Regions from separate parts of the Homo sapiens genome. Here regions 1, 3 and 4 are each reported to be linked to region 2. Evidence: microRNA targets listed by miRTarBase, many of them from high-throughput screens and not tested one by one. Region 2 holds a microRNA gene; each other region holds the end of a gene's coding sequence.
Evidence for each region. The annotated mature microRNA hsa-miR-4701-3p reads AUGGGUGAUGGGUGUGGUGU and lies in region 2 at 3,775-3,794, shown strand. An mRNA with a match to its seed (bases 2 to 7 or 8) in the 3' UTR can be bound and repressed. Matches are read on the target gene's strand: a 7mer-m8 pairs with bases 2 to 8, a 7mer-A1 pairs with bases 2 to 7 and ends in A, and an 8mer does both.

Region 1: miRTarBase lists PPIL4 as a target of hsa-miR-4701-3p. The part of its 3' UTR that is shown has no 7-base or 8-base seed match.
Region 3: miRTarBase lists PPM1K as a target of hsa-miR-4701-3p. Seed matches in the 3' UTR shown: 7mer-m8 at 4,904-4,910.
Region 4: miRTarBase lists SMARCA5 as a target of hsa-miR-4701-3p. Seed matches in the 3' UTR shown: 7mer-m8 at 3,544-3,550.

The regions. Positions count from the first base shown.
Region 1 is chr6:149,500,750-149,506,891 of GRCh38, forward strand. PPIL4 (peptidylprolyl isomerase like 4) reads right to left here. Exons shown (of 13, transcript NM_139126.4): 13 at 3,746-4,955. The coding sequence ends at 4,704. Among named protein-coding and RNA genes, the nearest start is that of ZC3H12D, 19 kb to the left of the region's middle.
Region 2 is chr12:48,769,632-48,775,773 of GRCh38, reverse strand. It overlaps MIR4701 (microRNA 4701), which reads left to right and starts at 3,737; the gene lies at 3,737-3,799. It overlaps ADCY6 (adenylate cyclase 6), which reads left to right. Exons shown (of 22, transcript NM_015270.5): 10 at 76-101; 11 at 324-471; 12 at 720-817; 13 at 996-1,083; 14 at 1,256-1,372; 15 at 1,676-1,834; 16 at 2,127-2,305; 17 at 3,231-3,266; 18 at 3,350-3,479; 19 at 3,801-4,064; 20 at 4,804-5,008. It also overlaps a transcript of SPMIP11 not described here.
Region 3 is chr4:88,257,829-88,263,970 of GRCh38, reverse strand. PPM1K (protein phosphatase, Mg2+/Mn2+ dependent 1K) reads left to right here. Exons shown (of 7, transcript NM_152542.5): 7 at 1,245-6,142. The coding sequence ends at 1,376. Among named protein-coding and RNA genes, the nearest start is that of PPM1K, 24 kb to the left of the region's middle.
Region 4 is chr4:143,552,144-143,558,285 of GRCh38, forward strand. SMARCA5 (SNF2 related chromatin remodeling ATPase 5) reads left to right here. Exons shown (of 24, transcript NM_003601.4): 24 at 976-5,343. The coding sequence ends at 1,041. Among named protein-coding and RNA genes, the nearest start is that of SMARCA5-AS1, 40 kb to the left of the region's middle.

The DNA of each region.
Region 1 (6,142 bases), not on the chromosome of region 2:
TCCATCTCAAAAAAAAAAAAAAAAAAAAAAAAGTTAATAACCTGAAGTCAGGGGTTTGAGACCAGCCTGGCCAACATGGTGAAACCCCATCTCTACTAAAAATACAAAAATTAGCCGGGCATGGTGGCGCACACCTGTAGTCCCAGCTACTTGGGAGGCTGAGGCAGGAGAATCACTCGAACCTGGGAGGTAGATGTTGCAGTGAGCTGAGACTGTGCCACTGCACTACAGCCTGGGCAACAGAGTAAGACTCCATCTCAAAACAAACAAACAAACAAAATGTAAATAAATATCTTTTAAAGGTTTTTAAAATTATTCTTTCCAGAATTACATATTTGGGATTATGATTATCAGGGTTTCAACCTTCATGATCATGGCATTTGGGATTATGTATTTCCGGATTATGAGTGGCTCCCCAAAAGGCTACATAATACAGAATTCCACTTATATAAAATCCTTGAAATGACATAATTATAGGAATGGAGAACATATCAGTGGTTGACAGAGGTGAAGGAGAAAACAGAAGTGGCAGGGAAGTAGACGTGGCTATAAAAGGACAGCAAGAGGGGTCCTTGTAGTGATGGAAATTTTCTGTATCTCCACTGTGTCCATGTCAGCATCTTGGTTGTGATACCATACTAGAATCTTACAAGATGGTATCACTGGAAGAAACTAGGCAAAGGGTACACAGGTTCTCTCTGTATTATTTCTTATGATTGCATGCCAATCTACAACTGATTTCAAAATTGAAAGTTTAACCACAGCAAAAAAGCAATCAGAAAGAAAAGTCACATTATATCCAAAAGAATGACATTTGGAATGACAAAAGATTTCTCCCCAGTAGTAACAAAAGTAAAAAGATAGTAGACTAATTCTTCAAAGTACTGGGGGAAAAAAAGACACACCTCAACTTAGAATTATGTACATATAAAATCAACTTTATAGAATGAATTGAAAATACTTTTGATAAATGTAAACTAAGAGTTTGCCATCAACAGATGTCACTAGAGGAACATCAAAAGATGTGCTTCAGAAAGAAGGAAAATTATCCTAGGTGAAAGGTCTGAGATGTGAGAATAATAATGAATAAACAAACACTTCTAACATATAAAGTAAATCTAAACCAACAATTATCTGTACAAAAACAGTAATAATCACAAGGTCTAATTTTTTTTCTAACAGATGGTGTCTCACTATGTTGCCCAGGCTGGAGTACAGAGGCTAGTCACAGGCACAATCGCAGTGCACTGCAGCCTCTAACTCCTGGCCTCAAGGGATCCTCCGGCCTCAGCCATTCAGGAGCCAGAACTACAGGTGTGCACCACTGAGTCCAGCTCAAGGTCTAATTTTAAGGTGAAAAATCACAAGCTATAACTAAAATACTGAATGATTTTAACACGAAAGTTGCAAGAGGGGTGACTTGGAGAGTTCCAAGACTCTCAATTAGAGAGGAAGATAAAGATATAACATTATACTTTTTAAGTACGGATGTAATATTCCAAGGAAATTCCCCCAAAACAAAGAAGAGGGGGCAGAGGGGTGAGGGTGGAATTAAAAAACATTTTTGATTCCAAAAGAAAAAAAAAGAGTGGAAGAAAAAAACATAAAAAGCACAAAATAAGGTGGTAAGGAATAAATGCAAATACATCAGTACACATAAAAATGCACTCAACTAACCAGTTAAAGTTCAGATTAGATTTAAAAATAATTGGCCGGGTGCAGTGGCTCATACCTGTAACCCCAGCACTTTGGGAGGCTGAGGTGGGCAGATCAGAAGGTCAGGAGTTCCAGACCAGCCTGGCCAATATGGTGAAAACCCTGTTACTAAAAAAAAGAAAAAAAAATTAGCCAGGCCTGGTGGCAAGCACCTGTAGTCCCAGCTACTCAGGAGGCTGAGGCAGTAGAATCGCTTGAACCCAGGAGGTGGAGGTTGCAGTAAGCTGAGATTGCGCCACTGCACTCCAGCCTGGGTGACAGAGTGAGACTCCGTCTCAAAATAGTAATAATAATCATCATCATCATCATCTAGCTATATGCTGTTTATGAGACACACTAAAACATAAGGACATTCATCAACAAAGCAGGATAGAAAAATCTAGCTAAACTATGCGCAATGCTATCAAAAAATAAAAACGTCAATGAAAACAAATTCCCAGAAAAATGTAATAAAAATGACTAACATTAAAGAAATAGAAAGGCTAATAATTCTATAATTTTTGAAACCTAATCAATAGTTAAGAAATTTTCTCACAAAAAAATGCAAAGTTCAGACAATTTTATAGGCAAGCTCTATCCAGCTTTTAAGGAACAGATTAATTTAAATGTTTTTCTTTTCTTCCAAGAGAACAGACAGAGGGAAGGAGAGAGAGACAGCACTCCTTAACTTATTCTTAGTATCCACAATCTATTAAGTATAAAAAGACAACAATCTACTACTATATAAATGGGCAAAAGACATGAAACAAGCTTTTCAGAGAGCAATAAGGAATGAATAATAAACATGGGAAAAGATGCTCAGCCTCATTAACATTTAGGAAATACAAAGTTAACTTCCACTCTAGTCAAAATGGAGTAGCAGAGGCACGATTTACCTTCTCCACCTTAAATTAAAACCTATATAAAATGTATACAAGGAAGTTTTTCAGATGTTAGACAAAAGCCAGTGCAGGACAGTGACTCCTGAGAGATGGAAAACAAAGAAAGCCCTATAATTGCGCAAGCTTCTACATGGGGTTTCTAAGCTGTGGCACTAAGGCTAGGGAAGGGAACCTCCCTGGGTAGAGAATTTAGGGGAGCCAAGGTAAGATTTGCAGGGCAGAATATTGGGTTTCCCTTAAGTCTTCAGCTAAACACCAAGCAGTGTATGCATGTGAGGTAAGGAACAGGAGATACAACTGGGAGCTCAATAGGGTTCAGAATATTTCATGTTCCCAACAGACAGAATGCAGAAACCGTGTAACCAGGAAGATTATTCAGAACGGTATTACCTTCGTAGTGGGTCAAATTAGCCCTAAACTAAAGGCTGTCCCAGTCCTGTCTTATTAAGCTTAAAAGCAAGCTATAAAATGATCGGATTGTTTCCAAGTAACTTTATGTCCCCAAACAGAGTTCAAGATACTTAAAAGAACTCCAGCACCCAATATTAAAAACAGAAATTACCAGGCATGTAATGAAGGAAGTTACAATCCAATATGGGCAGGGTGGGGGTTGGGGTAGGGTGGGAATCAATCAATAGAAACAGACCAGAAATGATGCAGATGACAGAATGGGCAAGCACACTGAAAGAGCTATTATCAATACACTCCAGATGTTGAAAAAAAAAAAAATAGAGGAAGGCATGAGCATGTGAAGGAGACACATGGGAGATAAAGACCCAGACAGAAATTCTAAAGACTAAAAATATGTCGGAGGTGAAAAATACCTGGATACGATTAAAAGGAAATTAGATACTTTAGACAGAAAGATTAATAAACAATGAGGACACAGCACTGGAAAGTACCCAACATGAAACACAGAGAGAAAAAGGCTTTTTAAAAAGCTGCACAGAATCAGCACACTGGGAGAAAATTCTGAGGGGCCTAACGTACATCCAAGTCATCAGAGCCCCAGGAGAAGCATGAGAGGAGCAGAGAGAAAACCATAACAGAAGAAAAAATGCCCCCCAATTTCCAAATTCTATGAAAACCATAAACCCACAGGTAAAATAGCTGCAGCAGCAGAAACGTGAAAAAAAAACTACAGCAAGCACATCATAATCAAACTTCTTACAACCAGTGACAGAAAACCTTAAAAGCAGCCAGGAAAAAAATGACATCTTACACATGGAAGAGCAGAGATAACAGTAATCTTGCTGGAAATCACAGGTAGATACCACTTAACATCCACTAGGTTGGCAAATTTTTAAGTCTGAACTTAAGTGTTGGAGATGCTATGAAACAAAGGTAACTCACAGTGCCAAGAGAGGTATAAACTAGTACAGTCACTTCAGAACACAAATTTGGCATTATTTTATCAATATATCAAGCAATATAACTGCTAGATACAATGTTCACAGCAGCATTGTTTCAACAGCAAAAACAAATAAACAAAACTCAAATGTCCATCAAGAATGAATAAGTTGTAGTATATTTATATAATACTATATAGCAATAAAAATGAAAGAAAGTCACAGAAGTAAACATTTTGCCATTTATATAAAATTCAGAAACATACAAAATTAACATTTCACTTACAGATACATACGTATGTTGTAAAACTATAATAGACAAATGACAAACACAAAATTCCAAATAATTATTTGAGAGGGAGAGGGCCTTAGGGAACTTCTAAAATGTCGACAACATCTGTATCTTAAGCTGGCTGATGAGTACACAGATATTTACATTTATTATCCCTTTATATATACGTTTATGTATTTTTGTAGTATGAAATACTTCATTAAAAAAAGAGTGAAAATGTAAGACTTCAAAAATGAAGACTACCATTTATGTATAACAATAAAATTAGTGTAAAAAAGTATACAAAGAAAATGTTCAATTCTTTATCTTTCCGTGCTCTATATAATCAGTATTAATCTAAAGACCATAATCCTAGTATGAAAAAAATAACAAGCTTTGACACAAAATCTAAGCATCTGCTTTCCTGGCACTCTTAAGTTAGACAAGAGTAAATATGTTAGCCTCTCAATTCTGCCTCTTCATCTTTCATCTATACTTAGATTTTTCTTTATCTTTGGACTTCTTTGGACTTCTGCTTCGGTCTCTCTTTTTACTCCTTTCTCTTTCATAAAGATCTGTTTGGTATTTTGATTTATGACTATTACTATAATGGCCATCCCTCTCTCGAGATCGGCTACGACTTCGGTTCTGAGTTCGGTCTCTCTTTTCACTCTTTTGTTTCTCCCAACAGCTTTCTTCTTCTTCATAGTGACCAAACCCCATTTCTCTATAGATATCCTGTCAAAGGAAGGGGGAATTACAAGTGAATCAGTAAAATAATCATTTTGTGGGCATTTTCAATTAATAAAACTTAGAAAAGTCTACCATTAGAAGGCTGTTATAACAGCTTAAATGTGAACACTACCACTAATGTCAAGAATCTTGTAAATTACAAAGCAATAAAATAATTCAGAAAAAGGTTTAACAACGTCATTGATTTGTATCTACTATTTTGGCTGAAACGAAGGATCAGCTTCAAAAATATGGAACTGAAATAGCTCAACTGAAATCAGAACATGTCTCTAGAGCAATCTGCAAAATCAAAAATTCTGATTATGTATAGTCTTATTCCCAGCTCCCCACCCTTCACTCCCCCAAAACGTGGTCCCATTATTGATCTGCAATGAAACTACTAAAATTCCCATAAGAATCCTATAAGAAGATATCATTGAAATAACTTAGCAGGAAGAGATCTTAGACAAGTCAGTAAGTCTTAAATAAGAAAATGGAGGCTGGATGCGGTGGCTCACGTCTGTAATCCCAGCACTTTGGGAGGTTGAGGTGGATGGATCACCTGAGGTCAGGAGTTCAAGACCAGCCTGACCAACATGGAGAAACTCTACTAAAAATACAAAATTAGCCAGGTGTGGGGACGCATGCCTGTAATCCCAGCTACTCGGGAGGCTGAGGCAGGAGAATTGCTTGAACCTGGGAGGCAGAGGTTGCGGTGAGCCAAGATTGCCCCACTGCACTCCAGCCTGGGCAACAAGAGCGAAACTCCATCTCGAAAAAAGAAAATGGATAATGTATACTTGGGTCTGAGCAATTAATTTTTAAAGTGTTTTATTTTATAACAGCTCCTCTCTAGATGTTCAAATACATCTTCCATGTTTAGAAAGACAGAAGTTAGAGAGGAGAATTTTTTTTGAGACAAGGTCTTGCTGTCTCCCAGGCAGGAATGCAGTGGCACGATCATGGCTCACTGTAGCTTCAACCTCCCAGGCTCAACCGATCCTTCCCACCTCAGTCTCCTAAGTAGCTGAGACCACAGGCATGTGCCATCACACCTGGCTAATTTTTGTATTTTTTTGTAGAGACGGGGTTTCCCCATGTTGCCCAGGGTGGTCTCAAACTCCTGGGTTCAAGTGATCCCCTCCCACCTCGGCCTCCCAAAGTACTGGGATTACAGGCATGAGCCACCTCAC
Region 2 (6,142 bases):
GGGGTGGGGGAAGGAGCTGCAGAGATGAAGGTTGTTGGCCCTTCACCTCACTCCACACTCTGTCCCTTTCTCCAGGGCATTGATGATTCCAGCAAAGACAAGTAAGTCAGGTTACTGAGGAGGGAGAAGGCACTTGCACCCTGGGATGGGGCTGGGGGGAGCCGAGATCCTCCTTTTCCCTGACCTTAGGAGTGTTGTGTGGGAGCAGGAGCCACCCCCCTGGCTCTCCCTCCCTCCCTCAGGTGCTGTCCATACCTTTCCTTTCATTGTTTCTCACATGGCCATGCCCATGCAACTGGTGAAACCATGTCTCCTGCCCTCAGCCGGGGCACCCAAGATGCCCTGAACCCTGAGGATGAGGTGGATGAGTTCCTGAGCCGTGCCATCGATGCCCGCAGCATTGATCAGCTGCGGAAGGACCATGTGCGCCGGTTTCTGCTCACCTTCCAGAGAGAGGATCTTGAGAAGAAGGTTTGAGGGATACAGGGCAGAAGGACAAGGGCTGGGGGAGGGGCAGGTCGCAGCAGGGAAGGCTGAGCACAGGTGAGGGCACAGGTGTTTCTGGGGGATGGAGAAGGGACCACAGAGCAGGGTGAGGATTTCATCAGTTGAGCCAACTGCATCTCCTCCCTGTTGAGACCCCTGGTAGTGCCCTGTCCTTGCTGTCCCTGCCTTCCTTAGGGAGGGCCCAGCACTCAGCTCAGCCTCCTCTCCCTCAGTACTCCCGGAAGGTGGATCCCCGCTTCGGAGCCTACGTTGCCTGTGCCCTGTTGGTCTTCTGCTTCATCTGCTTCATCCAGCTTCTCATCTTCCCACAGTGAGAGCCCTGCCTTTCCTCTCTTAGCTTCTCTCTTCACCACTTCCCAGAAGCTTCCTAAATACCCACACAAGCCCACAATCCCTGGAGCCTGCATCCCTGCTTGTTCCAGAGGGTGGGACAAGAATGCCCAGATCTTCCAGAATTAAATGATTTTTCTGGCCCTGTTCTGCCCCAGCTCCACCCTGATGCTTGGGATCTATGCCAGCATCTTCCTGCTGCTGCTAATCACCGTGCTGATCTGTGCTGTGTACTCCTGTGGTTCTGTACGTAAGGGGATTTCTGAGGCTGTTGGGGAGGGCAGGCTGGACTCCAGACAGGGAGGAGGTCACATGGGGAGAGGGAGAAGGCCATGCCTCTTCCACTGGGCCCCATCCCTGGTTGCCATTCCTCCTTGGCTGATACAACCTTCAACTCTTGGTCTCTTGATGCCTCTAGCTGTTCCCTAAGGCCCTGCAACGTCTGTCCCGCAGCATTGTCCGCTCACGGGCACATAGCACCGCAGTTGGCATCTTTTCCGTCCTGCTTGTGTTTACTTCTGCCATTGCCAACATGGTAAGGGTCCAGTGGGAATTCTCCCACCTCTGCTCTGTGCCAAGCACTGTCCTGGACACTGGGAGTACAGCGGAGAAAAGGACATATTTTCTGCCCTCAGGGAGCCCCCTCCCAGAATAGGGGAAGGTTAACTCCGGTTCTCCTTCCTTGTTCTCCCAACCTCTTGTCATCCCTGAGTGAGTACTAAGGCCCATGGGGTATAAGGTACCTGGGCATAGCCCAGGTTAGGGTACATGGCTTCACCAGGTACCTTGCAACCCTTTCCCTCCTTGGTTACCCTGATATACCCCTCCACTTTTGCAGTTCACCTGTAACCACACCCCCATACGGAGCTGTGCAGCCCGGATGCTGAATTTAACACCTGCTGACATCACTGCCTGCCACCTGCAGCAGCTCAATTACTCTCTGGGCCTGGATGCTCCCCTGTGTGAGGGCACCATGCCCACCTGCAGCTTTCCTGAGGTGTTCGAGCAGTGCTCAGGCGGTGGGGGGGCTGTCCTGGCACAGACATTGGCCCTTCTGTGCCAGGCCTGGTGATGGGCGCTGGGGACCCAGGAACTCACCAGAGTCTCCCACACTAGGAGCAACCAGGGGCCCTGGTGTGTTGTAGGGGCTGGGCATGGAAGGTGGAGGATATGGGGGTTTGAGGGGTGTGGTGGGAAGGTTAGGTCAGGCAGGAGAGTGCAGGGCTCTCCCTGCCCAAGGGTGCTGTGGCCTCTGCCTTCACCCAACGCTGCCTCTGCCACCCCCGCAGTACTTCATCGGGAACATGCTGCTGAGTCTCTTGGCCAGCTCTGTCTTCCTGCACATCAGCAGCATCGGGAAGTTGGCCATGATCTTTGTCTTGGGGCTCATCTATTTGGTGCTGCTTCTGCTGGGTCCCCCAGCCACCATCTTTGACAACTATGACCTACTGCTTGGCGTCCATGGCTTGTGAGTTTATTCTCAGGTCCTTTAATACCCCAGGAGCTTCCCTCACCTTTCTAGGTCACTGTGAGCCTCTCTGGTGCCCATGCCCCTTGTGCCTTGGAATGCCACAACACCCCTGTGGGGGAAAGGGAGGAGATGGAGGAGCTCCCAGCATGTGACCCCAAATAGTTACCCCCAAGGAAACCCTAGTCCTGGGAAATCCTTGTGTCTTTAGGCTAGACATTAAAAAAAAAAATTCCCTCTTACATTTGCATGGTGCTTTCACATCCACCATCTTAACCACCTATAGGACATACAGCTGCTTGGTGGCAGGGCTCTGGTTAGGAACCAAAGCTTCTGATTCCTGCTTGGGGGCTTTGCCTGGGACACCACACTGGCTTTTCCTCTGCAAAACCCCATTCCTTTGATATGTGGCCATAGCTTGTTGTAGTAGAAAAAGCCTCTGGTCTCTGCTGGGTTTGAATCCCTGCTCTGCTGCTCATTAGCTGTGTGACTTTAGACAGGTGAGTTAGCTTCTCTGAGCCTCAATTTCTTCATCTGTAAAATGGCAATGTCACCTAAATCACAGGGTAGTTGTAAAGATTATAGTAACTAACATTTATGGAAGGCTGACTATATGGCAGGCACTGTGCTAAGCCTTTTACATACATTATTTAGATCTGATCCCTGTTGTACTGATGAGGAAGGAGGCTTAGAGAGTTAAGCGACTTGTCTCAGGTCACATAGCTGGTAAGTAGAGGAGTCTCTAAGAGCAGAGGTTTTCTTAACCTCTACTCTTAATGAGTTAATTAATGTAAGTAAAAGCCCTGGCCCAATGCCTGACTTACAGTATGTGCTCAGTAAATGCAGTCTCTTGTCTCCCCTTCCATGTGCCCACCCAGCAATCCAGGAAGCACTGATGACTTTGTCTCTTCTATCTTCTTACCAGGGCTTCTTCCAATGAGACCTTTGATGGGCTGGACTGGTAAGTGAGGGCTCCGAGGCAGCAAAGGGTAGAGCCATTAGATGCCTCCTTCAGACACCAAGCATGTCTCTGCTTATCCTTAGTCCAGCTGCAGGGAGGGTGGCCCTCAAATATATGACCCCTGTGATTCTGCTGGTGTTTGCGCTGGCGCTGTATCTGCATGCTCAGCAGGTGGAGTCGACTGCCCGCCTAGACTTCCTCTGGAAACTACAGGTGACTGTGTGGGCCTTTGGGGGAAGAGGAGGAACCTAGGGGCGGAGCCTGGGCCAGGCCAGAAATGTATCTTGTGCTAGCTGGCTAAGGCTCAGGCCACACCTAGGCCCACCCTGGTTCCATTCCTTCTCTGTGCCCATCCCTTACTCCCTGCCCCATCCTCTACCTGCCCCCTTTACCCCTTTGCCTGTTCTTTAGGCCTCATCTGTCTGGGCCTTTCTTTCTCTATGTGATTCCCTCTTATCCGCACTTCCAAGCCTTGGCCACCACACCTACCCCTTGTGAATGTCGGGCAATGGGTGATGGGTGTGGTGTCCACAGGCAACAGGGGAGAAGGAGGAGATGGAGGAGCTACAGGCATACAACCGGAGGCTGCTGCATAACATTCTGCCCAAGGACGTGGCGGCCCACTTCCTGGCCCGGGAGCGCCGCAATGATGAACTCTACTATCAGTCGTGTGAGTGTGTGGCTGTTATGTTTGCCTCCATTGCCAACTTCTCTGAGTTCTATGTGGAGCTGGAGGCAAACAATGAGGGTGTCGAGTGCCTGCGGCTGCTCAACGAGATCATCGCTGACTTTGATGAGGTACTTTTCCAGTTGGCTGGTGGTGGCAGAGAGTGGGGGGTACTTGGAGACCAGGGATTGGAATGGGTGAGTGGAACTGGGAAGAGAGAGAGAGATTTGATGGGACCCAGAGTCATCAGGGGTAAGGGTATGCACAGTGGAGGCAGAGGCAAGAACCCATGAAGGTGTCAGAGGCAGCAAGGGGGTCAGCCCTAGTGGGGCAGGGTCATCACTGTTGGGGAGCAGGGGAGGACTTGATCTGTAGGGGGATAGGATAGGTACCAGGTGGATGTCACTGAAGAAGAAGGCAATAGTCTGTGGACAGAACCTCATGAGACCAACCAAGCAAGATGGTCCTCTGAATAGAGAAAATTGAAGCAAAATGTGAGGTAGTGTCCTGAACATCCAGATCAGGAATGGGCTGTTCACTGTTCTGGAGGGAAGTCACTTGCTCACTCTGGGACTCAGTATCCCAAAAGGTAAGGATTGGAGAAATTGCTTAATATTGCACTTGTGGGTCTGTGTTCTGTGAGTGAGCTACTGGAGGGACCTTCTGAAGCTGTATGCCCAAGTCCTGCCTGGAGTCCTAGGCTGCCTGTTTTCCCAGCTCCTCAGTCTTACACTGATAGCAGCAGCTGGAAGGGGGCTCTTGAGACAGGGAAGTGGGGAAGGCAGCCAAGGCGTGGCAAGAAATGAGTGTTGGGGCAGGGCTGGGTCTGGGGTCTTTGCCTTGACAGCCAGGTCTCCTTGTGTTGTTCAGATTATCAGCGAGGAGCGGTTCCGGCAGCTGGAAAAGATCAAGACGATTGGTAGCACCTACATGGCTGCCTCAGGGCTGAACGCCAGCACCTACGATCAGGTGGGCCGCTCCCACATCACTGCCCTGGCTGACTACGCCATGCGGCTCATGGAGCAGATGAAGCACATCAATGAGCACTCCTTCAACAATTTCCAGATGAAGATTGGTAAGAGGGCTTTGTTGCTTGGCGGGTTTTCCCAGGACTTTTTCCAGGTGAAGCTGGGATTATAGGCTGGGGATGGGATCACAGATTTCCCATCAGGGCTCCTGTGGGGTTTTCTTCCCTCTGACCTCCTATATCAAGTCTGATATTAAGAACAGAGATCATTAGGCACTGTCCTATAAATTTTTGAGCATATTTTAATCCTGATACTATTATCGCCTTTCATTGGATAGAGACTGACTCTCAGAGAGATTAAATAACTTGCCCAAGGTCAAACAACTAGTAAGTGGCAGAGCTGGGATTAAAAATCAGGTTTATATAAACTTGAATACTTCTGTCCTTATCTGTGACCAGTCCAATAAGAGGTATTTCCTCTCAAATGAACTGGTGGATGGGAGTGGTTAATAGCATGGCTACTAGAGATGGACTATTTGGTTTGAATTCTGGCTGCTCCATTTACTGGCTTATTTGAGAAGTCTTCTAACTTCTCTAAGCTTCAGTTACCTTATCTATAAAATGGGGATAATAATACCTACCTTTTAGAGGTGTTGAAAGGATGAAGCCATGCCGGGCGCGGTGGATCATGCCTGTAATCCCAGCACTTTGGGAAGCCGAGGTGGGCAGATCATGAGGTCGGGAGTTCAAGACCAGCCTGACCAACATAGTGAAACCCCTTTTCTACTGAAAAAAAAAAAAAAAAAAAAATTAGGCCGGGCGCAGTGGCTCACGCCTGTAATCCCAGCACTTTGGGAGTCCGAGGCAGGCGGATCACGAGGTCAAGAGATCAAGACCATCCTGACTAACACGGTGAAATTCCGTCTCTACTAAAAATACAAAAAATTAGCCGGGTGTGGTGGTGGGCGCCTATAGTCCCAGCTACTCGGGAGGCTGAGGCAGGAGAATGGTGTGAACCCGGGAGGCGGAGCTTGCAGTGAGCCGAGATGGTGCCACTGCACTCCAGCCTGGGTGACAGAGCGAGACTCTGTCCCCCCCAAAAAAAAAAAAAAAACAAAAATTAGTTGGGTGTGGTGGTACATGTCTGTAATCCCAGCTACTCGGGAGGCTGAGGCAGGAGAATCTCTTGAACCTGGGAGGCAGAGGTTGCAGTGAGCTGAGATTGTGCCACTGCACTCCATC
Region 3 (6,142 bases), not on the chromosome of region 2:
CAGTTCCTCTGGTCAAGAAATTTAGTTTATGTTTATTTTTTCCATTCTATAGAGGAAGCCCAGTAATAAACATTCTGATGTCTATTTGTGCATATCTGTTTCCTTCAGGAAATAGGTTTCATTCTTAGGAATAGTATCCAGGTGTGGTGGCATGCATGTATAGTCCCAGCTATGAGGGAGGATGAGGTGGGAGGATTGCTTGAGCCCTTAGAAATACAATCTTTAGGCCAGGTTTGGTGGCTTAGACCTGTAATGCCAGCACTTTGGGAGGCTGAGATGGGAAGATTGCCTGAGCCCAGGAGTTCAAGACCAGCTTGGGCAACATGGCGAGACCCAGTCTGTACAAAAAAAAATATTTTTTTTACTTAGCTGGGCATGGTGGTACATGCCTGTGGTGTCAGCTACTTAGAAGGCTAAGGTAGGAAGATCACCTGGGTCTGGGAGGTCAAGGCTGCAGTGAGCCGAGATCGTGCCACTGCACTCCAGCCTGGGTGACAGAATAAGACCCTGTCTCAATAAATAAATAAAATTTCTAGATGAAAGAATACACAATGTTCTAGAGCTTTTAATAAGTTTGCCAAATTATCCTCCAGAAATACTATACCAATTTACACTAGCATGTTCTACAGTTTGTTTTTCCAAATTCTTACCATATTTTTTTTTCTTACCAATTCGATAGATGGAAAAATCAAATTTTAGTGTAGAAATTTTTATCTTTTTTCTTTGTTGGTGGAGTTAGCTATTTGCATAGGCTTATTAGCCATTTGTATTTCTCTTACGATTATGGCTAGTTTTTTTGTCTTTCAATTTCCAAGGTTTTTATTCCATTAGGGTAAATTTCCCTAAAGGGAATTGAATTCCTGGTAAGAGCTAACAATTATCAAGTCCTCACCGTGTGTTACTCCCTACGCTGAATGCTTTACAGGTATCTTCATTTTCAGGAGCTGCATACCAATGCCCCTTAGTCCACTGGTGTTTCTGTTGCCAAAATTGCTACAGCAGAATATAGTTAATATGGTTGTTTTGGGTCATCTGTTATTCCGTGTGCAATTTAATAATCCTTGTGGGCATTAATACAGGGTGAAAATCACAAACCATTGTGAAATAAGTAGGTTAGTAACTGCACATAAGACCAGTTTGGCTTTCTAGGGGAAGCGTATTTCCAAGGGAAGGAAAGGCTGATTTCTCTTTGTATAGACTGTGATTTCCAATGTTTTTCTCTTTCTTCCTGCCAAACCTTGCAGGCAATACAGTACGGTACTGAGGATAACAGTACTGCAGTAGTAGTGCCTTTTGGTGCCTGGGGAAAATATAAGAACTCTGAAATCAACTTCTCATTCAGCAGAAGCTTTGCCTCCAGTGGACGATGGGCCTGATTACCAGCTGGGACTTAGAGTTTCTGTGCAACAGTTTTTCACTGAGCATGTCAAGAAACTGATAAGATCAAAAAGGTCTCCTAACTCACTAGATCAGCGCACAAGTCAGTGTAAACCACTTAGATAGTAGTTTTTTCATAAATGCTCATCATATTTATGTTCCGCTGTACATGTTCAGTATAAATATATGTGTAGTGAAGCTACTGTGAGTCTTTAAATGGAAAGAGCAAATGAGAAGTGGTTTGGATACACTTGATGAGAGATGAGAGTGTCACATTAATAATTTTTAAGACTCTTAGGCAGCTATGGGTTTCTTTTGATCATTTTTGTTCTTTATTCATTTGAACACGTTTTTGAAGTTCTTCAAAACTAGTCAGTTTGAATTTTGACAGCTATTCAATATGTGATCTCCAAGTTTAAAAAAATTTTTTTCCAGACTTCCCTAATCCTAAAATGCGAGTTTTTATTTTTAATAACTGTACCAAGGAATAAGTATGAAAACAGTTCTCTGTTACCATATTTTGTATTCTGGACCACTTACTGGTGAAAGCAACCATGCAAAAGAAATTAATTTGGCCAGGCACAGTGGCTCATGCCTGTAATCCCAGCACTTTGAGAGGCCAAGGTGGGTAGATCATCTGAGGTCAGGAATTCAAGACCAGCCTGGCCAACATGGTGAAACCCTGTCTCTAGTAAAAATCCAAAAAAAAAAAAAAAAAAAAAAAAAAAATTGGCTGGGCGTGGTGGCAGACACCTGTAATCCCAGCTACTCGGGAGGCTGAGGAAAGAGGAATCACTTGAACCCAGGAGATGGGGGTTGCAGTGAGCTGAGATCATGCCATTGCACTCCAGCCTGGGCAGCAAGAGCGAAAAACTCCATCTCAAAAAAAAAAAAAAAAAGAAAGAAAAGAAATTAATTCAGATGATGTGACATTACTAAATTGTATACATATTTATAAATGTGTATTTCAGCTGTCTCATCAGCCCTCCCCTCCATTTATTCCTATTTTTCTGTAGTTAAGAATACTGTAAAAATGTGACTATTCCTTAATATCAGAAAAGAATGCACAGGCTGAGTCTTCCGGTCAAAAGTTAAATACTGATGGAATCAAGTATTTTGTATGAAGTTCTCATTTGTTATCTCTAACGCTATTTTGTGTTTTGCATATAGTATTATAGTATGTGTATATCACTTTTTGTATAGAGTAAGCAATTGAATAATTTGTTAATAAAAATAATACCACATTGACTGATACTGCTATAGACATAGCTTGAGTTTTATGTCTCCTTTTTGCTCATTTTCTAAGACTTAGGAGAAAGAATAAATCTAAAATGACCATTAAAACATTCTCCATTTCAGCTTGCTGTGTAACTTAGGAAGTATAAAACTATACTTCTCTTTATCTGCATGTAAGTTTGCTGTTAAAATGTGAATTTCTAAATGTGTATTTGGAATTATTTCCGTAGTTTATTTCTGCAAACTATGTAAATTTGTTATATGTGTGAGTATGTGTACATATGTATATTTTAGAGTAATATAAAATTAAAGGGAACAATCTTGCATAGCTCTTTCACCAGTTTTAAATTATTGATACGTTATTTTTAAGGACTCTTGACAAACTAGGGGCAATTTTCTTATAGTGGAGACCCAGTGATTATCAGCAGATGAGGAAATAGGTTAAAAATTGCTATATGGCAATTTGTATATAAAGTAATAGGATGTGAGAAAAATACTGAATCTTAAGAATGACATGGAATTCTGTGGCAGAAACAAAAGAAAAAGTTGATGTAGTATATACCTTCAACTGTGTTTTGAGTTGACTTTTTTTTTTTTCTTTAAGCTTTGGGTAAAAATGTATGAGGAGGGAGAGGGCCCAATATAAATATTTACATCTTCTTACCTTTTTGGAAATGGAAGAAGATAAATCTTGAGTTTTTCTGCCTATATTAATCAGGAATTGCCCTTTGAAAAAAGTGCTAAATAAATATTTTGATTTTTTTTTTCAAGGGAAGTTAGGTGAAAGAAGGAAAAACATCACAGGAAAGACTGTTAACATTCTGTTTGTTGTCTGAGAGGTGAGGAACCAAAGGGAGGCAACTAAAGCGGGAAACCATCTTGCTTTTTCTAATCAGTTCTTGGAACAGAAATGTGGAAGCTACCTTTAGGAACATGGAGAATTTCCAAACCAACAGGCAAAGGAAAACTAACGCACAAAAATGACATTCTGAAGATGCAGGTTTCAGCCAGGCGCGGTGGCTCAAGCCTGTAATCCTAGCACTTTGGGAGGCCAAGGCAGGTGGATCACCTGAGGTCAAGAGTTAGAGACCAGCCTGGCCAACATGGTGAAACCTCATCTTGACCAAAAAATGCAAAAATTAGCCAGGCGTGGTGGTGGGTGCCTGTAATCCCAGCTACTGGGGAGGCTGAGGAAGGAGAATTGCTTGAACCTGGGAGGCGGAGGTTGCAGTGAGTCGAGATCGCGCCATTGCACTCCAGCCTGGACAGCAGAGCAAAAACTCCATCTCAGATAAATAAATAAACAAATATGCAGGTTTCATTTTTGTTTTGAATGCTTTACATTACTATTCCTATCTTTTACTTTAAAAACTAAGATGAGGAGTGATGTTGTCAAGTTCAAAGGCATGAGGGTGATTGATGGATTGAGGTAGATAGCCAAGTTTGTCTGTTTTTGTTTTTTATAGTTACAGAGTCTCACTTTGTTGTCCAGGCTGAAGTGCAGTGGTGCAATCATAGCTCACTGAGATTGCCAGGTTCGACAAAGAGGAATTTATAGGATGGGGATATAGGGTAGACTTGACTCTGCTTTATCCGGGAAAGCTTTTAAAACTCTGAGCCAGTTAACTTTGAGTAAGCATAAAACATACTGTATTGGTGTTTGTATTTTTCATGCCACAATATTAAAATGGAATTTTAAATGTAGATTATTATAATCTATAAAAGATAAGTATGCATGTATTAGGATACTGGAAAATATGCAAATCATAGTAAAAAAAAAGGGACTGCTCTAGTTTTTCAGTTATAACTGAATTTGCCATGTGGGTATAGGCATAGTGTAAATTACATTAATGTAGTAAAACATCAATTGTGGTTCGGTTTGTCTTTCATTTATGTGTAGTATAGAAATCACCTTTCTAATATGTGTTGCCAAACTATTTGCCACCATCTATTTGGTGAAATATTCATTGTCATTGTGATTTTCCACAAGTATAAGTTCTTAAGTACTTTATAGATTCAGAAGTAAATGCTGTCCTGTTCTCCATCAGCTGTTCGTTTGTTACAGATTTTGTATTTCTTTTTTTTTTTTTTTGAGATGGAGTCTCACTCTGTCACACAGGCTGGAGTACAGTGGTGCGGTCTCGGCTCCCTGCAACCTCTGCCTCCCGGGTTCAAACGATTCTTCTGCCTCAGCCTCCTGAGTAGCTGGGACTACAGGCGCGTGCCACCACCCCTGGCTAATTTTTGTATTTTTTTTTCTTTTTTTTTTTTGAGAAGGAGTCTCTCTCTGTCACCCAGGCTGGAGTGCAGTGGCACGATCTCGGCTCACTGCAAGCTGCGCCTCCTGGGTTCACGCCATTCTCCTGCCTCAGCCTCCCGAGTAGCTGGAATTACAGGCGTCCGCCACCGTGCCCGGCTAATTTTTTTGTATTTTTAGTAGAGATGGGGTTTTGCCATATTGGCCAGGCTGGTCTCGAACTCCTGACCTCAAGTGATCCACCCACCTCGGCCTCCCAAAGTGCTGGGATTACAGGCATGAGCCACCGCACCTGGCCAGATCTTTGTATGTCTTAAGTGTTTCAAAGTTATAAGCATTTTTCTGGGGGGATGTCCATTTTGGAGGGATCCATTTTGATCCTTTGTACTCTATAATGTGAACTTTCCCCTGTTCCAACACTTAAAAGAGAATTATTAGCACATAATCTAAAAGATGGAATTTTTTTTTTTTCTTGAGACAGAGTCTCGCTCTGTCGCCAGGCTGGAGTGCAGTGGCGCGATCTTGGCTCACTGCAACCTCTGCCTCCTGGGTTTAAGCGATTCTCCTGCCTCAGCCTCTGGAGTAGCTGGGACTACTCGTGCATGCCACCACGCCCGGCTAATTTTTGTATTTTTAGTAGAGACAGGGTTTCACCATATTGGCCAGGATGGTCTCGATCTCTTGACCTCGTGATCCACCTGCCTCGGCCTCCCAAATTGCTGGGATTACAGCACTGTGCCCTCCTAGGAAATTATTTTTTAAGTGAAATTTTATTTTTATTTTTTTTAGGATTTTGGTAGAGAATGAGTAGGCCTACTCATCAATATCAAACAGGACATTTAGTTTCTTTCCTTAGAACAGACATAAATTTAATTTCATGGTAATATGATAATAAGAAAATGCTTCTATTTTTCTTTAGCACCTCCATGGTTCTCATATACCCATGTCTGTAAAAAGTGACATGAGAATTTTGTTGGGTTACATTTTATTGTATTTATTAGATTCGCTTATATAGATGACTTAGGCAGAAATAAAGTCATGTCTTTAGAAGGTGAACAAGCCAACTTGTGATGGCCTGCCTTTTGCTTTTGGCAGTTGGGATGAGAACAATTGACTCTCCCATTGGTTGTTAGATAGTTGAAATGGTGCGTTGGTGGTCATACTTAGTGTTCTAGGCTGTGAAATCATGGAGTTCTTCCACTTCCAAGAATGACTCATTTGCTGTTGGATTCTAGTACAGAATTTAGCAGCCTGATGTGTCCCCAAACTGAT
Region 4 (6,142 bases), not on the chromosome of region 2:
TTATTTCACGTGTAATTACTGTAAATGGGATTACTTTTTATTTTTCACATTCTTCACTGTTGGCATAGAAATGCTACTGTTTGTTGTATGTTGATTTTGTATCCTGCAGTGTCACTGAATTTGTTTATGAGTTCTAATAGTTTTTTGATGGAGTCTTTAGGTTTTTCCAAATGTAAGATTATGTCATTTACAAATAGGGCAATTTGACTTCTTTGTTTCCGATTTAGATGTCCTTTCTTTCTTTCTCTCGTCTGATTGCTGTAGCTAGGACTTCCTTGAAATACTTAAAAAGTACAAATTTAGCTTGACTGGGTTGTGTGGGAAAAATCACTTCTTGATGATATGGTAGTCCTTAATATGGGGCTTCGTGAAAATCAGGAAAGTATGTCTCGTAAATGTCAAGTGTGTACACATCTCATTGAGAATACAAGTTATAATTTTAGAATAATTTAAGAAACATTGGAAAAGCAGTGGTATTATGACTTTTACTGTTAGTCTCTAAGCTTTGATTATTTCAGTGATGTTTTAGCAATGTGAAGGCAAACACTTAAAGGGAAAAAATGTTATTTAATAATAGTTAATTTAATAAAAAATGGTTAATTTATAAAGTCATGAATAAATGAGTATCTCTGGATAATATTTGGTACTTATGTAACTGCCTTTTAAAAACTCAAGTGTTTCTTACTATTTTGGGAAGCTTGCATTTATTTGATATTGATCTACTACTGTTAATTGTGCATTAGTTTTATAACGTCATTATTAACATTAACATTTTTTATTCTGTAAGTAAAATAAGTAGGTAAGATTATTTGGAGGCTTTATAGTTTGCTTTGAAAGATTTATATAGCCTGGGGGAAAAGTCTCATACCTATTACTTTGTAGTAGTTGTTATTACTAAAGTGTTATAATGTGTCTGCAACTATATTTCATGTTTATATTAGTCTTGTGAAAAGTAATCCTTCTGTCTGTTTGTAGACACAGAAACGTAAAATGGATGGCGCACCTGATGGTCGAGGAAGAAAAAAGAAGCTGAAACTATGAATATGTTTTTGTTTCATAATCACTAACTTTAAACCAGTAGTTCTTTAATTTACGGGTCTTCATAAGATGTACTGTACAATGCTCAATTGTTATGTCATTTAAAGACATCAGGTTCATCTGTTTACTGAGCTAGAAACATAGTATGTAGTTTCACTTTTTTAAATGCAACAGCTGTGCTGAAATTTTTTTATCATTAACACTTGAAGTAATAAAATAGGCTTCATTTATTACTAAGTGTTTCATTTGATTTATTTTTCTATTGTAGTTCCATTTGTGAAGATTGTGACTTTTTGTTTATTAGCTATAATTTCTACACTTGTAAGGCTTAAAAACAAGTTAAAAAGAAAATTGCAAATAACATTTGTCCCTTTCAGTCTTCACCTAGTTGTGTAATTATTTTAATTCACTTTGCCTTTGCAGAAATTTGGGTATTTTCTTTGTAGTGCTATTGAGTCTCATCTGGAAAGATTATATAAATTGCATTCTCCTTGCTTATGTGGGTAGAATGGGAAAAGAAGGCAAGACAAAGTATACTTAAATTCTATGCATATTTCTGTTATGCTTTCTGTTTTTTTTAGTTGATTCTGAAATGAATATGCCCTATTCTTTTGAAAGAATGGCCTTTTAGTTGTATAGCCAAAGACATTTAGTATTTTCCGGTTCCTTAAGGTATTACTGTACCATTTTGTAAAAGGAATATTATTATTATTATTTTTAATTATTTGGTAAATATTTTGTCATATGACCTTCTGAAGCAGCCACAACTTAGATAATGTCAGAACTAAGGTGATTTTTTTTTTTTAATTTTGAAAGCCCAGCCAAAATGAGGTGTGAATTTGTCATACTGTTACATTGAAATTGGTAACAAAATATATCCCCTCCCATTTGGACTTTTAGGGTAAATGAAAATTTTATTGTATTTTAAAGTAGTTTCTAAGTGTTAGCAAGACTGACTATAATTCCAGTTTCTGTTTTCTATGGACAGACCTGATAAACTGGAGACCCTAAAGCAGGAATACCCAAATTATAGTGTCAGGATTTTAGCTGTACCAGAGGCCTTTATGTGCTACACATAATTTGTATAAAATTTTATATGTGCAGATTGGGTACATAAACAGTTCTCCATTTTTCTAAGGGAATGCAATAAATGTAGCATCGTGAATAAATATAACTTTTATAATCCGTAAAGTGGTCTTTTCTTTCCATTTCTTTAATTGTTTTCTCAATTTTTATTCACTTTTTCCTTTAGGACACATTTCCCTTAATTGGATATCTTTCCCTTAAATTTCTATTAGTAGTTGTTTTCATCTGCCCACATGTAATTGAAGATTTAAAAAAAAAATTTTGATACCTGCAGTATTACTAATACTGCTTAATTTCTTGAAATGTGGAATTGCTGCTGTTAATGTCAAGCAAAACGCAGTATTTATGGCAAATTGTAAAGTAATTTGAATTTAGTGCTACCTCAAAATTAACTTTTTAAATACTATGTTAGATTCTTAACAGTTAAAGGTCTAATACATGCATGAGGAATGGTTACTTATGAAAGGAAAAAGAATTTGTAAGAGTTATCACCTCAGTTTGGAAGAAATTGAAAAAATGTAAGGCTGAAGAAAACTTACGGAGGTCACAAAAGTGATGTTTTCAAGAGGAGGAGAAACTGGGAGGGAGATACACAGTGGAAATGCAAAATGAATCAAGTATAGTGGTAGCCCTGAGAGCTTAGGGACTCAAATGGAAACTGTGTGAAGGGAAACTCACTTGAAAAAAAAGCATGAACCAGCTAGGCCCTGCCACCACTGTGTTTGGCCAAGTTCACAAATCTGTTTTAACCTGTCACTTCCCTGTCACTTCTCTGGCTTTCCTCTCCCGCTAAGCTTTTGTTTCCTGGCAGTAATTAAAATCTTCTGTCAGTGCCACAGCTACTACTGCTACTGGAACTGCCTTAACCACTACTGCTACTGGAACTGCCTTAGCCACCTTGGTATCGTGGTTTGGCAAAGTATTGGCCTCTACCACCATAGGGCCCAGAGCTTCTGCCTCCAAAGTTTCCTCCCTTCATGGGTCCAAAATTTGAAGACTGATTGTTGTCATTGCCAAAATCATTGTAGCTTTTACCACCTCCAAAATTGCTTCAATCATTACCAAATCTATTATAGCAATCCCCACTGCCACCATATCCATCACCACCACCATGGCTGCCACCAAAGCCACCACGATCACAGAACTTGATGACTGTATTTGTGACTAATTGTATAATAGTTTCTGTTCTGTGGAAAGTAAAGCATTCCAACACAGGGTTTCAGTGTAGATTGTTTTGTTTTGTACCCATGCTGTTGATTGCTAAATGTTTTAATAATCTGATCATGATACTGAATAAATGTCTTTTTTTTTTTTTAACAACAAAGCATGAAAGATTGCTTAATTGTACATCTGACAAAGTGCTGGAGGCTATTATAAAGTGTAATTATTACTACTTTTAAGAGACAGGGTCTTGCTCTGTCACCCAGGCTGGAGTGCAGTGGTGCAATCACAGCTCACTGCAACCTCAAACTTCAGGGCTCAAGTGATCCTCCCACCTCAGCTTCCCAAGTAGCTAGGACTACAGATACCACGCCCAGCTAAGTTTTTTTAGTTTTTGTAGAGATAGGGCCTTGCTATGTTGCCCAGTCCGGTCTCAAACGCCGACTTCAGGCAATCCTCTTGCGTCAACCTCTCAAAGTGCTGGGATTACATGTGTAAGCCTACATTCCAAAGTGCTGGGATCATAGTTGTGAGCCTACACCACACCTGGCCTACATTTTGTTTTTCATAAAGTTGAGAGAAGCAAATCCTAAGCATAGAGTACAAGTTGAGCATCCCTAATCAAAAAATCTAAAATCAGAAATGCTCCATAATTTGAATGCTCATTAGGGCATTTCTGATTTTTGGATTAGGGATGCTGAACTGATAAGTATAATGCAAGTATTCTAAAGTCTGGAAAATGCTAAAAACACTTCTGGTTCCAGGCATTTCAGATAAGGATTGCTCCATCTGCCCTTTGAGTATTTAATATATGCCGATTGTTTGAACTAATCTGGATTTAATTATATAAATGATTATATAAATGATCTTTGGCTTAGTACCTTTCTTAATCTCGATCTTAAAAAGCATTGTAAAACACCCCTGTGGTTTTTCAGAAAAATTCTGAGTAAAAAATAAATTTCATCTTGTTCTATCCCTTTGAATCTAAAAAACAAATCTTTTTGAAAGGATGTGCTACTATATTTCAAACCAGTAGTTTTGGAGTAGAACATTGCTAAAAAAATGGGTACTAAGGAGGGTAATTTAAACAAAGTAGATTAATGACACAAGGTGGATTGATGAACTCATAAATCCAAATGAATGGAATGCTAGAAGACATGTATTAACGGAGTAGCTGTTACCAAAATATATACATATTTTGTATATGTACATAGCTGTTACCAAAATGTATCTTTGCCTGTTGGAATCTGATGTCAAGATCAAAGGTGAGGGCATCCCTCAGATGACAGATAATGGGCAAAATACATTCTTGGTGTGGAGCAGTGCTGCAGAATTAACTTCGCTGTGTACATCCCAGAATCGTTTTGGATCTGTTAAGGTTTTTATTAGAATGATTAAATAGGCTTTTGCAGCATTAACTTTACAGTAGTTACCAGAAAAGACTATGCTACAAGAACCAAAATTGAAGTAAGAAGAAAAAGACTGAAATGATATGATTCTAAATGAAAAAAATGAAGAAGTGGAATAGTTTCTCCACAGGCATAAGAGGCAAAGCATTGTTTCAGAAGTGGACTGGCACCTCACCTGAGATACTCAAGACTGGCAACATGGGTCTACATTCTTTGTTACCACAGATTCCCTTGTGTCCGGAGAGATTCCCTAGCTCTAATGACAGCTTTTTTGGGGGGTAATGAGGCTATGAGAAGATTGAGGATCTAGGTACTTGCCTTTAACTCTACAGCATACAAGGTGTGTGGCTCTTATCTCTAGGACACCAATATTTAATGTTGCATATCATGTATCTCCAGTACAAGAAGAAAGTTTATCAGAATTTAGTTAATGTTGGAAACTTTGTAATATAAACAATGTAAACACTACATTGACAAAAATATTTTATTAATACAAAGAATATGCATATAGTTTGCTTACTACAGAAATTCTTGTTTTTGATGTAGACAACCCAAAGGAGTTTTTATGTATATAGATTGTGAATAAATTGGGAAAAGAAATAGAGATAAGTAGAGATTATTTCACTTCATTAAACTTTTGAAGTCCTAATTTAGTTCATGTGATTATTTGTAAACTTTTCTTTATTAGTCTTCCTCAATCATTGAAGAACCCAGGATTCAAATACAATACTTAATGGAAACACTTTTTCATCCCAAACTAAATCCTGCCCTGAAAGCCGAATTCACTATGAAATCTGAGATGAAACTCCAAGGCTATTATGCTGGCCAGTGGAAGGTTGGTTCACCCCTCTTGAGGTGACATTAGGGTGGTCTGCAGACATCACTGGAGTGGACAAAGAGATGCCTGGGTGGTTGGGGAAAGGACAGATCATAGACAACAGTAGCCTCTTTCTAGAGCTCAGTTGCAATAAATACCACAGTTACTCATCAGACACATTGGCAGTTCTACTTATTCCCATGTTTCAAAACTAGAGAATTCTAGCAAGGACTAAGCACTGCTTCTGTAGACCATCGGTATTTCTCCATGGCTGTTTGAATTTTTGTCAAAGCTTCTGTGTCTCATGCACACTAGTGACTTTTGAGACAGAGTCTTGCTCTGTCACCCAGGTTGGAGTGCAGTGGTGCGATCTAGGCTCACTGCAACCTCTGCCACCCAGGTTCAAGCAATTCTCCTGGCTCAGCCTTCCGGATAGCTGGGACTACAGGCATGCACCACACCTGGCTAATTACTGTATTTTTAGTAGAGACAGGGTTTCACCATATTGGCCAGGCTGGTCTCGAACTCCTGGCCTCAAATGATCTGCCTGCCTCCGCCTCCCAAATGTTGAGATTACAGGTGTGAGCCACTGCATCTGGCCTGATGCAGATTGATAATTTCTTGAGTGAGG